Linked DNA regions of Homo sapiens: region 1 is linked to region 2. A link means that fine-mapping ties the variant in region 2 to the expression of a gene that starts in the linked region. Tissue or cell type: tibial artery. Region 2 holds a variant in brackets; the other region holds the start of a gene. All regions are shown on one strand. Distances are from middle to middle.

Region 1 (5,149 bases), 110 kb before region 2:
TGAGGAACTGCCTTGAGAGCATTTGAGAATTGATCTTCCTTAGGGAAGGGGAGGCTGACACATTCATCCACTGTTTGGTTAAGGACTGACCCAGGGCTGTTGGAAACTTCCAGGCTAGGCAAGATCCCACAGCCCTTGAGAAAGCCTCCTGGTAGAGAGGAGAAAGGGGGCCTGCTTTGGATAGACAGTTTCTCTGTACAGAGGGCAGCTCATTGCAGCTGCCGGTGAGCTCAGAGGTGGGCCCAGGGGACATGGAGCCGAGCATCACTAACACTCACGCTTGTTACTCTGGTTGGCAGGCCTGTGCCCCCTTATCTAGCTACATAGGTCCCATCTCCTCCTTGAAAGTTCGTTCAAGAGCACCCACTTCTTGGAAGCATTTTCCAACTTATCTCCACCCTACTCCACCTTCAATGTTCTGAATAGCCCTGGATACCCTGGACATGACTCTATAAGAGTACTTATCTCTCTGCTTACTAGATAGAGCTTTCCTGTCTTTCTTAGCAAGAATAGTTCTTTTTCATCATTGCACATGTAGGGCCCAGATTTTTTTAGCACATTACAGGCACTTAACCGATGCCTTAAAATGAATTCAAGTTCACCTTGCTCAGGGACCCACTCAGAGCAAGTGGTCAACAAATGTGGACTCCTTTCCTCCATCTGATTTAGGAGAACAGTCATCTAGTGAGTATACAATATGACAAATATATTCTTTAAACAGAAATGCCAAGGAAGCACAAAGGAGGGAGTAATTAACTGGGACTATACCAATGAGACTATAGTTACCTCATTTGACAGTCTTAATTACTTAGGTTTTTTTTTTTTTTTTTTTTTTTTTTTTTTTTGAGACGGAGTCTCACTCTGTCACCCTGTCTGGGATGCAATGGCATGATCTCAGCTCACTGCAACCTCTGCCTCCCGGGTTCAAGCGATTCTCCTGCCTCAGCCTCTGGAGAAGCTGGGATTACAGGTGCCCACCACCACGCCCGGCAATTTTTTGTATTTTTAGTAGACACGGGGTTTCACCATGTTGGCCAGACTGGTCTCAAACTCCTGACCTTAGGTGATCTACCTGCTCGGCCTCCCAAAGTGCTGGGATTACAGGCGTGAGCCACCGCGCCTGGCCTACTTATAGTTTTAGTTTTCCAGAAGCACTAATAGAGCCATCTGGTGCTCCTTCCACCGCACTGGGCGTTCCCTTTTGAATCTCTCCACCAAAGAGGAAGCCACAGGGAGCTGCGGGACCGAGTGAACCACCCTACCTCAGGCAGAGGTCCCATCTGCAACTCTAGTTTGTTTGCTTCTTTCATTTATTCAACACGTGTTTATCGATGGTCTCATATGGGCCAGCACTGTTCTAAGGAAACAGGCAAAGGTACTGCTGTAATGCAGTTTACCCATGCAGTGGGGAGAGTGGGGGGCAGATAAAAAATAAGCAACCAATCATGTAGGCTACATTAAACAGTGACAAGGGCTATGAAGCAATCAAACAGGATGCGCTATGTTTGGGAGAGGTGGAGGTGGGGTGTAGGTGCCAGAGACAAGCAGATCACATGGTTGGGGAAAACCTATCTGCGGAGCTGACTTCTGGGCTGTGAGCTGCGTGCCAAGAACAGCCATACAAGGGTTCTTCCAGGCAGAGGGGACGGCAGCTACAGTGGGCCTGGAGCAGGACCCTGGGACTCCTGGTGCCCAGCTCAGAGCTGTCCTACTGCTTCTGGCCACGGAGAGAGAATTGCAGAAAAGGAACAATGCTGGGTCTAAAACTGGTATCTGTTCCTTACTTGGAGTAAACGAGCTGGTACCCAACTTTCAGTTCCCAGCAGGTTCATTTCAGGCTTCTGTTTTCGCTCATGAGCATGTTGTTCCCTCTTCAAAGTCTGATTGGGTTTCAAAGGAATCTGAAACACTTACAGCAAAACCACCAAGCTGCATCCTCCAGGTAGACACCCCCGAAATGTGGCATTTCCGTGGGAAACCACAATGAATCACTCATTGGCTGCCCGACCTCTCTGCCCAGTCAGAGATTGATTTTGGTTTTCCCAAACTTTGTAAATCCGCTCCAGACTGTTTAACAACCCCCACTCCCCACTACACCCAGACTCTCAGATTAGGAGCAAAATCCCAAATTTTGTGAGGTTTTCTGTTTCGGATTTCACCAGAAGGGGGTCTGCCACAGCCACTAACCATTTCCTCTGCAGAGAGCCGTTTCTGAAATGCTGCAAAGAAAAACAATCACCCAATGATTAGGAGGGAAATTAAGTTCTAAAGAAAGACTACTGTCTCTGACTTTGAAAGTAGACATAGATATGCACAATATACATCCCACAAATTAAAATCCTCCTTTCTCTGATGTCTTTTAATGGTAATAATAAGGACAAGCATGGCTATCATTTATTTGGGCGTTTCCAATGTGCCAGTCCCTGTCTAAACATTCAGCTTCCAGATCAAACCTATGAGGGTGGAATTAACATCCATTTCATAAATGGAAACTGAGGCTCAGGAAAGTTGAGCGAGTTACTCAAGGTAACATGAGTAGAAAAAAGGCCATATTCCAACCGGACACAGAGCCTGCAGCCCACACAATTACTCTCCATACTGTTCCTATACTATCCTGACTGGGAAGGTCCTGTTCCCTTGGCACTGGGCAAAAATAAAATTATAAGAGCAGAGAGGAAGTGGTGAAAGGGGGCAGCCTGGTGAAATCATTCCTTTACTGAAAATAGGGGTAACGGCCAGGACAGTGCAGGTCCATCCTCTGCAGATGGAAGACAGGCACGTCCTTTGCCGCTGTCCCGGCCTTAGAAAGGCACCTTCCGCGTCCAGGGTTTTCTGTGGATAAATCCCACCCCTTCCACCTCAGGCGGGGAGGAGGCCGGCCGGCCGGGGCATGGGGCGGAAGGCGAAGGACGCCCGACCCCGGCCGAGGTCTGGGGCCCCTCCCACGCCCCCCTCGTGGCTGCCGGCGGGCCAAGGGTTAAGCGAGGCGGGAGCCCCCGGCGCGGAGCGGCTCGGGGCCGGGAATGCTTAGTCAGGATTCCGATTTCCTGTCGAAGTGTTTGGATTTCCTGAAACCCGCGCCCTCCGCCGCCGAGCGGGATCGTGCGAGCCGCTCGCGTCGCCGCGGCCTCCTCCCCCTCGGCACATGGTCGCCCGCCCCTTCCTGCGCCGCGCTCGGCTCCCGCGCCTCGCCTGGCCTGGCCGCTGCCGCGGGCGAGCACTGTGCGCTGGGCAGCCCCGGGCCCGCGCCTCCCGCCCAGCCGGCGCTTCCCGGTCGCAGTTCGCTTTCCCACCCGAGAGCCGCGAGCGCCCGGCCGAACCCGCGATGGAATAATGCCCAGCGGCCCGCCAGGTCCCGGTGAGTTGCGGGGCGCTCGGGCGCGCTCGGCGGGGCCGGGCGGAGTCGCCCACAGTCGCGGGCGCCCCCTGCCCAGTCTCTCGCGCGAAGAAGGGCGCCGGGACGGGGCGCGGGGCGGGCTCCCGGCTCCTCTCGCAGCGGGGTGTCCTTCTCCGCGGGGAGGGCGCCGGCCCTGGGCTGGGGCGTGTGCGGGACGCGCGGCCAGGCTCTGCGGGGCCGGGCGAGGCCGCCCGGTGGGGGGGGGAGGTCTCCTCGCCTCCAGCTCGGGAGAGGGGGCCCCTGCAGTGGGGCCGGGGACGGGGCCCGCCCTGGGGGGTTTCGCGTCCCCCTCCGGGGGAGGGCCCGGGACGACGTGCTTGGCGGCCCGGACCCCGCCGATGGGGCGCCCTCCCGGCATTGTCTCTGGTGCAGCCGAGGAAAGTTCCCCGCGGCCCCCGGCCCCTACCCGGACCCGGCGCTGCTTGGCAGGCCCCAGGCCACTTGCCTAAAGCAAAAGAAGAGAAACGAAAGGGAAGGGGGTGGGGGGAGTCCTACTTGGAGCTTGGGGTTGGCTCCTGGGCGGACCGTGAAGTGGCTTGTGTTTTCTGCTTGTACCATTTTGGGACCTGCTGCGTTTTCTGAGAGCGACATGAAGTTTCAAAGAAAAAAGAAACTTGCCGGTGTCCGGTTTTCTGCGGTTTGATACATCCCAAGAGGTTCATCTTGGGCACTTCTAAAGCAGTTTCCTTTAATAATGTGGTTTTCCAGTAGCTCAGGGAGAAGGATGGTCAACTGCAGACCATCATCGTTAACTTGACCTCAACTTTACCTGTACTCGTCAGGAAAGCAAAAGAACTTTCTCTCGCATTTTCCCCTGTCTACTCTGTTAGGTTATCTTGGCGTGATTGATTCTGGGATGACATCAGGACCTGGATTGCTGAGTAATGTTTTGGGATTGTAAAAGCTTATCAGTTTTTAGGCCAGGGTTATCTGTATTGCAACCTTCATCCCAAAGCCTTTCTGTTTTGCAATTGTAGCGCGGCCAGATAGCTTTAAGAAAATGCGGGTCTTCTGGAAACACCCAGTGAACAGTTTGGAAAGAAAAAGATCTTTGAGAACAACTGATTCACCCCCTTCAGAGAAGGCCCAGAAAGGTGACCTGACTTGCCCAAGATCACATGGCCAGGAGTAGTTTCCACTTCTTCAGGCTCAGTCCCATGCCCCTTCTGTGTTAGATTTTGATCTGTTAGCCATGAAACAGATTTGGAAACGTCTTCTTTGCGTCACAGCCTTCACCACTTTAGTGCCTTCTCTTCTGTCCTGTTAATGCTGCTATTTTTGAGATATGCACTTATTTCAAACTGCATATTTTGAGATAGGGAGTTAAAAAAAACAAAAATCACCTAACGCCACTAAGTGGATTTGGAGATTCAGCTACCAAATGGATTTGAAGTATAAAATGAGTGGCTTATTATACGGGGAATTACTTTCCCTATCCCATTCTTTTGTGCAAAATAGAAACTCCCAGGTCCAAAAAAGGGCAGTATCTTAGCACATAATGTACCCTCTGATGTTCTCTAGACTTGATTTTCAGCCCTCCTGTTTCTTGTGAGCTAAGCAGCCCATCTATTTTTCTCATGAGAGCTCTGAATGGCTGGTTTTTCATTTTTAGTATGTGATAATGTTGGAGAGAAAGGACTTTTCGCAAGCTTGCCATTTGGTGAGGGAAATTGAAATTCTCTACACCTCCCCAGTCCTCACCAGCCACAGCGAGCCAGATTTTCAAAATCAGTGCAAGCCTGGCAGGCCCAA
Region 2 (5,149 bases):
CCCAGTCTGAACTCTGAAGGGAGGAGAGAATAAATCAGTGATCGTTAATCCGTCTCATACCCAGTGACAGAGCAGTGTGGCCAGAGAGAATTTGGGGAAGAAGAACAGGAAGCACAGGAAGGCAATGAAGACAAGGAGGGATGCTTGATATTCTGAAAGGAGGGTTGGAGGTCTGATATGTATTTGGATAATCTAAAGGGAGGGTTTATTTATGACAAAGGTACTTTGTTAGTGGGATGATGATTTTTAGTCACATTGCTGTTTTGTATTATTAAATGGAGAGCTGTTGGTATTTGAGAGAGATGCCCAGTTTTTCCAGAGTCTGAAAAGAGATTTTTGTTGATGTTGTAGTATAAAAAGTACTCTGTGACATGGCACATGGCTGCCAAAAGTGTGAAAGAAACAGGAAATCACTACACACTTGAAATATAATAGACCTTTTCATTCATCTTGTGTTTTTTTCCCTCTGAATTGTTAAATAAAAGTATATTCTGTTACATGCTACAGCTAGAAGCAAGCTTTAAGCTATCAGAATGGTTGTGAAGAACTGTAGAATAATATGAAGATAACTGTATTTGTTTCATGGCATAAAGTTCTTTTCAAATTTGGTTACTCATCCTGTGGTTTAAAAGTTAAAAAGAGACCATATATATTGTCTCTGAACTCTAGCTGAATCTATGTGAAACACAAGTAGAACTTTTGGGAGGCTGTGAGGTTTGTAGAAGACTTTAATAGAAATGAATGAAGAGCTGGCATTTTGTAATAATATTTCATCATGTGCTTTTCTTTTTCCGTTACCCAAGGAACATATTTGATGTGCTTGATATTTTTGTTGTTGTTGTTACCTGAAAATCAAAGAGTACCTCTTTATATGTGTGCCTCAGCAACTTTTTGTGGTTTATAGGATAATGTCCACTCTCCTTAACAGCTGCACCTAGAGTCCTCTGCCTTCTGCTGCTGCCAGAAGGAGCAGAAGCAAACTGGAAGCCTCTTGCATTTTCACGTCTCCTTGCCTCCTCCTGTACCAGATGAACACCTACTCATCTTTCTGGACTGAGCTCAGATGTCACCTTCTGAAGAGACCCTTCCTAACTACTGCTTTTCCCTGTTCCCCAGTCCCCATTAGAAGTTGGCAGCCCAGTCCTTGCAGCTCCAGCTGCTCTGTGCACACTGTGGCCCAACACCCATGAGGCTTCACGGGGTTCCCTGATGGCTGTGAGTCTCTTCTGTAATCTCAGCTTCTGGGGGATAGGCATGGTGTTCCATTCTGCATGCTGCTTGTCACATAATAGGCCCTCCAGAAATACTACTGAATGAATAAATGCATCTAATAGTCTGATAATTTTATCTGTATGATTGGCGAAAATATTAATCTTCTGGTGTTGTGACTTGTATATGAACCTTTCTGTTTCATGATGGCAATATGCCCTGCCATACTTTAAAAAAATTGTTACAGCCATGCCGTTTGTTTTTTGTTTTGTTTTGTTTTGTTTTTGAGACGGAGTTTCACTCTGGTTGGCCAGGCTGGAGTGCAATGGCACGATCTTGGCTCACCACAACCTCCGCCTCCTAGGTTCAAGCTACTCTCCAGCCTCAGCCTCCCAAGTAGCTGGGATTACAGGCATGTGCCAGCATGCCTGGCTAATTTTTTTATATTTTTAGTAGAGACAGGGTTTCACCATGTTGGTCAGGCTGGTCCCGAACTCCTGACCTCAGGTGATCCATCCACCTCGGCCTCCCAAAGTGCTGGGATGACAGGCGTGAGCCACCGCGCCCAGCCAGCCATGCCTTTTTACTATAGAAATAAAGATGAAAAATCTCAAGTAATCCCATCAACTAAAGATGATTAGAGTTAAAACATGTTGGTTTATAATTCTTTATAAAATAGCCTTTTAAATCCAACTGATTTGGACTAGGGTTGGGGGTGCTTAGGAAATAAGGAGTAGATAATAAGGTAGTATGGAGTAGATATATAATTGTAATTCCCCCTTGAGTTTTGAGAGCTACTTACCCAAAATAGAGCATGACACGGTTTCGCCTCCAAACAGAATTTCCATATGAAAGATTGAACCGCTTTGTGCTTGAATCACTGTGAATGTTGCTGCTGCTAGTTCTTTCTGTAATGTGAATAGAATTTCCTTAGATAAGTTGTCAGTGTATTATTTTCCCTTTAAAAAAAAAAACTTCTTTTTTAGCTGTTATAGATTTCTTAGATTTTTATATAGAAATATTTTCTAAAATTTTTTTTACAAAAATAAAATGAAAATTGTGCCTGTTGTGCTGCATGTGCTTTCAAGTTAGAATCAGTCATTGACATATTAATGGCTTCTTCCAGGTTGGAAAATTAATAAAGATTATCCTTTTACTTGAAGAAAGTGATAAGAGAAGTAGAAAGAAAATCAGGCTGAGATTAACTAAGGAAGCAGCCTTTTTATTCTACTTTCAGCCATTCAGAA[G/A]AGGGAAAAAATCCAGAGTTTCTAATAAGAAAACGAAAAGTTGTTTTGCATTCTGGAATATTTCCAAAAGCATTGCTATTGATGTTGAATTCCACTTTGGGGTTGGAGATTAGGAAATTTTTGGAAGTGTTGAAGTAAAATTAGATGTTCTTTGTATTATTTTTTATTTGACAGTGTACAAATAATGAAACTGTAAACTAAAGTACAATGACATAATCACAGAAATGATCATAAAAATGGTTATTTAACTTGAAGTGGGATTGAATATTCAAAAAGTGCAGGTGGTGTGGATGGGCTTCTGGGTGAAATTAGGTTTTCTCTTTCAGCAGGAAAAAAGACAGAGTTTTCATTATACTCCCTGCCATTGGTGATATGGTGTAGACCTGTAATGATAACAAGCACTCAACATCTTCATTGAAAAGCACCAGAAAGATGCAGAGCAGAAGCTGTAAACTTCACAAGTGCCATCAAATCAGACTGTTTCTTCAAAGTTGAATGGAAAATTTCAGATGTTGGTCATGAAATGTTTACTCTGTGACCCAAAACCAAGTTAACAGGCCTCCAAGAGAGGTGCTTGCTCTTGGATTTGAAATAGTAGCCATAGTGATAACTTCTCTTCTCTGTGTAAGCCCTGTAATTTTGTGTATTCCATCATTCTCTCTGGATTTAGTGGTTCTGAGAAAGCAAACCTAGACCTTGGGCCGAGACTTCACACAGAAATATTTGGGGATCTGCTCTATGGTTCTCTGGGTTTGGGCCTCAGTTTCCCCATTTTTCAGCTTTTGTGGATTCTGATCATTCTCCCCACTTGATGTGCATTGTGTGTTTGCATGTGTGTGTGTATGTGTTTCTAGATATGTCTGTGAATTTTGGGGTGTATTTTTTAAATGCTTTGCTTGTATTTTTAATGTTGCTAATAAAATACTAGCTACATGATTTTGAGGGCTTGGCACCTCTTGACTAGGTAACAGTACTGTGCTAAACTCTTTACATGTTTATCTAATACTTTTCTCATGATAACCTGATGTGGGTGGACGTCCTATTTTTTTACAAATGAGAAAAGGCTCTAAAATTAAGTAACTTCCTCCACTATAATAAGGAAGGCAGGAAGTAAGGCTGGATTTCATGCCTGCCAGATTCCATAGTCTGTGGACTAAGCAACTGTGTGACTTGCTTTACTTAACATTCTGGGCCCGTTTTCTTCAGCTGATGCCCAGGGAAGTGAAGTAAACTGACCAAGTTGACACAGTTAGTAAGGAATGCTCAGAGCCAGTGTTCCTTTCTCTCTCCAGACTGCTTCCATGGAATTCTTGCTCTGGGCTTGGCAGTTCCATCATGGTTCAGAAGGATGGATCTAAGAGCAAGATGACATTGTGATGTCAACTAACCTTCCAGAGAATGGTCTAAGGGGTAATAGGGCCCTACTCGCTCTTTCCACTCGAAATAGCCATGCCCCCTTTCCTTAACTTTGGAGCCCACAACACTTAAGATTAGCTGACATTTAATATGTGTGCCTGCTAGGTTCCAGGCTCTTTTTATATCCTATCTATTCTTTATGTCCATCTGCTTGGGAAGTAATCTTATTCCCTTTTTGCAGCTGGGGGAACTGAGCATTGGAAAGGCTGGTCTGGCCAATGGACAGCTAAGGTCTTTCTGATGCCAAAGCCCATTTTTGGTACACCATATCATCTGCTACTGAGAAAAAAAGGCTAGAAGTGGAAGGAGGTTTGTTTGTACTTTCAGGAGCATCCCAGAGAATCGTAGAATTGGGTTCAGTATATTCTTCATGGCTTCACCTAAAATTTTCAGCTCGGGGCATTTTTATAGGTTTAAGAATGATTATATGTAAAAACAGGCAAAATTTCCAGAAGGCAACAAAAGATAAATGATAGAACCCTGTCTTCTGTCCCTTTCCCCATAGAGATACCTACACACATTTAAACTGGGAAAGGAAACAATGATCCATCGTAAAGCTTACCCGTAAGACAAATTGCCTTTGGCAATATAAACCTTAAATGCTCATGAAGGCCTCACATGAGTTAAGTACAGTTTAACATGATTCTGCCATTTGAGCACCTACTATGTGCCTGGTTTTTGGTAGATGACTGAGGGAAGGGTAACAGAATGAATTAGACATGCTTTCTGTCCCAAAGGTGTTCACAGGTGAATGGGGTGGTGGTTGTGGGGTGCCAGGTTAGCTGCAATATAGCATAGACCGGTCAGAGCTGTGATAATTCAGATTGCTCTGAGAGCACACATGAGGTCATGACAGGTTCCAACTGGAGAAATCTTACAGGGTCCTTTCGGACCTGGACCTGAGGAATAGATGGGTAGAACATTTCAGGCAGAGGACACCTTTTGAGCAAAGACCCAGGGTGAGAAAATGCAAAGTGGAATGGAGACTCCCATTAGATGGGTAGTACGGTTTCATGCTTACTCAGTTTGGTTTGATGAAGCAATCTCTCTCTCTGTCTTTGTGGGTTTGTGTACAGTACATGTGTGTCTTTCTCTGTTAAATGCCTTTTATGTTTTGTTGGGGACGTGTGTGGGAGTGATTCATTTCCAGCTGGGTCCAGCTGTAATGAAAATGTCCTGTTTGACAAATTGAGGAATTAGATTACAACTGTCTCTCCCTGAAAGCTGTGACACTAGCTGTAACATCAAACATCCCTCCCTTTGTGGGGCAGGACAGG

Direction of the effects. Alleles are on the strand shown, and positions count from the first base shown. SD is a standard deviation of normalised expression in the study named.
As copies of A replace G in region 2, the expression in tibial artery of the gene that starts at base 3,144 in region 1 goes up (small effect, 0.16 SD a copy in GTEx).

The links. PIP is the estimated chance that this variant, and not a neighbour inherited with it, causes the effect.
Region 1: ASAP1 starts here. The variant in region 2 is fine-mapped to the expression of ASAP1 in tibial artery (GTEx, PIP 0.97).

The regions. Positions count from the first base shown.
Region 1 is chr8:130,441,669-130,446,817 of GRCh38, reverse strand. ASAP1 (ArfGAP with SH3 domain, ankyrin repeat and PH domain 1) reads left to right here and starts at 3,144. Exons shown (of 30, transcript NM_018482.4): 1 at 3,144-3,358. RefSeq lists silencers at 3,060-3,159, 3,200-3,289, 3,300-3,459, 3,510-3,589.
Region 2 is chr8:130,329,951-130,335,099 of GRCh38, reverse strand. The region is part of intron 3 of ASAP1 (ArfGAP with SH3 domain, ankyrin repeat and PH domain 1); the gene reads left to right. Among named protein-coding and RNA genes, the nearest start is that of ASAP1-IT1, 36 kb to the right of the region's middle. RefSeq lists an enhancer at 1,171-1,750 and a silencer at 4,952-5,001. The variant G/A (reference allele first, on the strand shown) is at 2,457.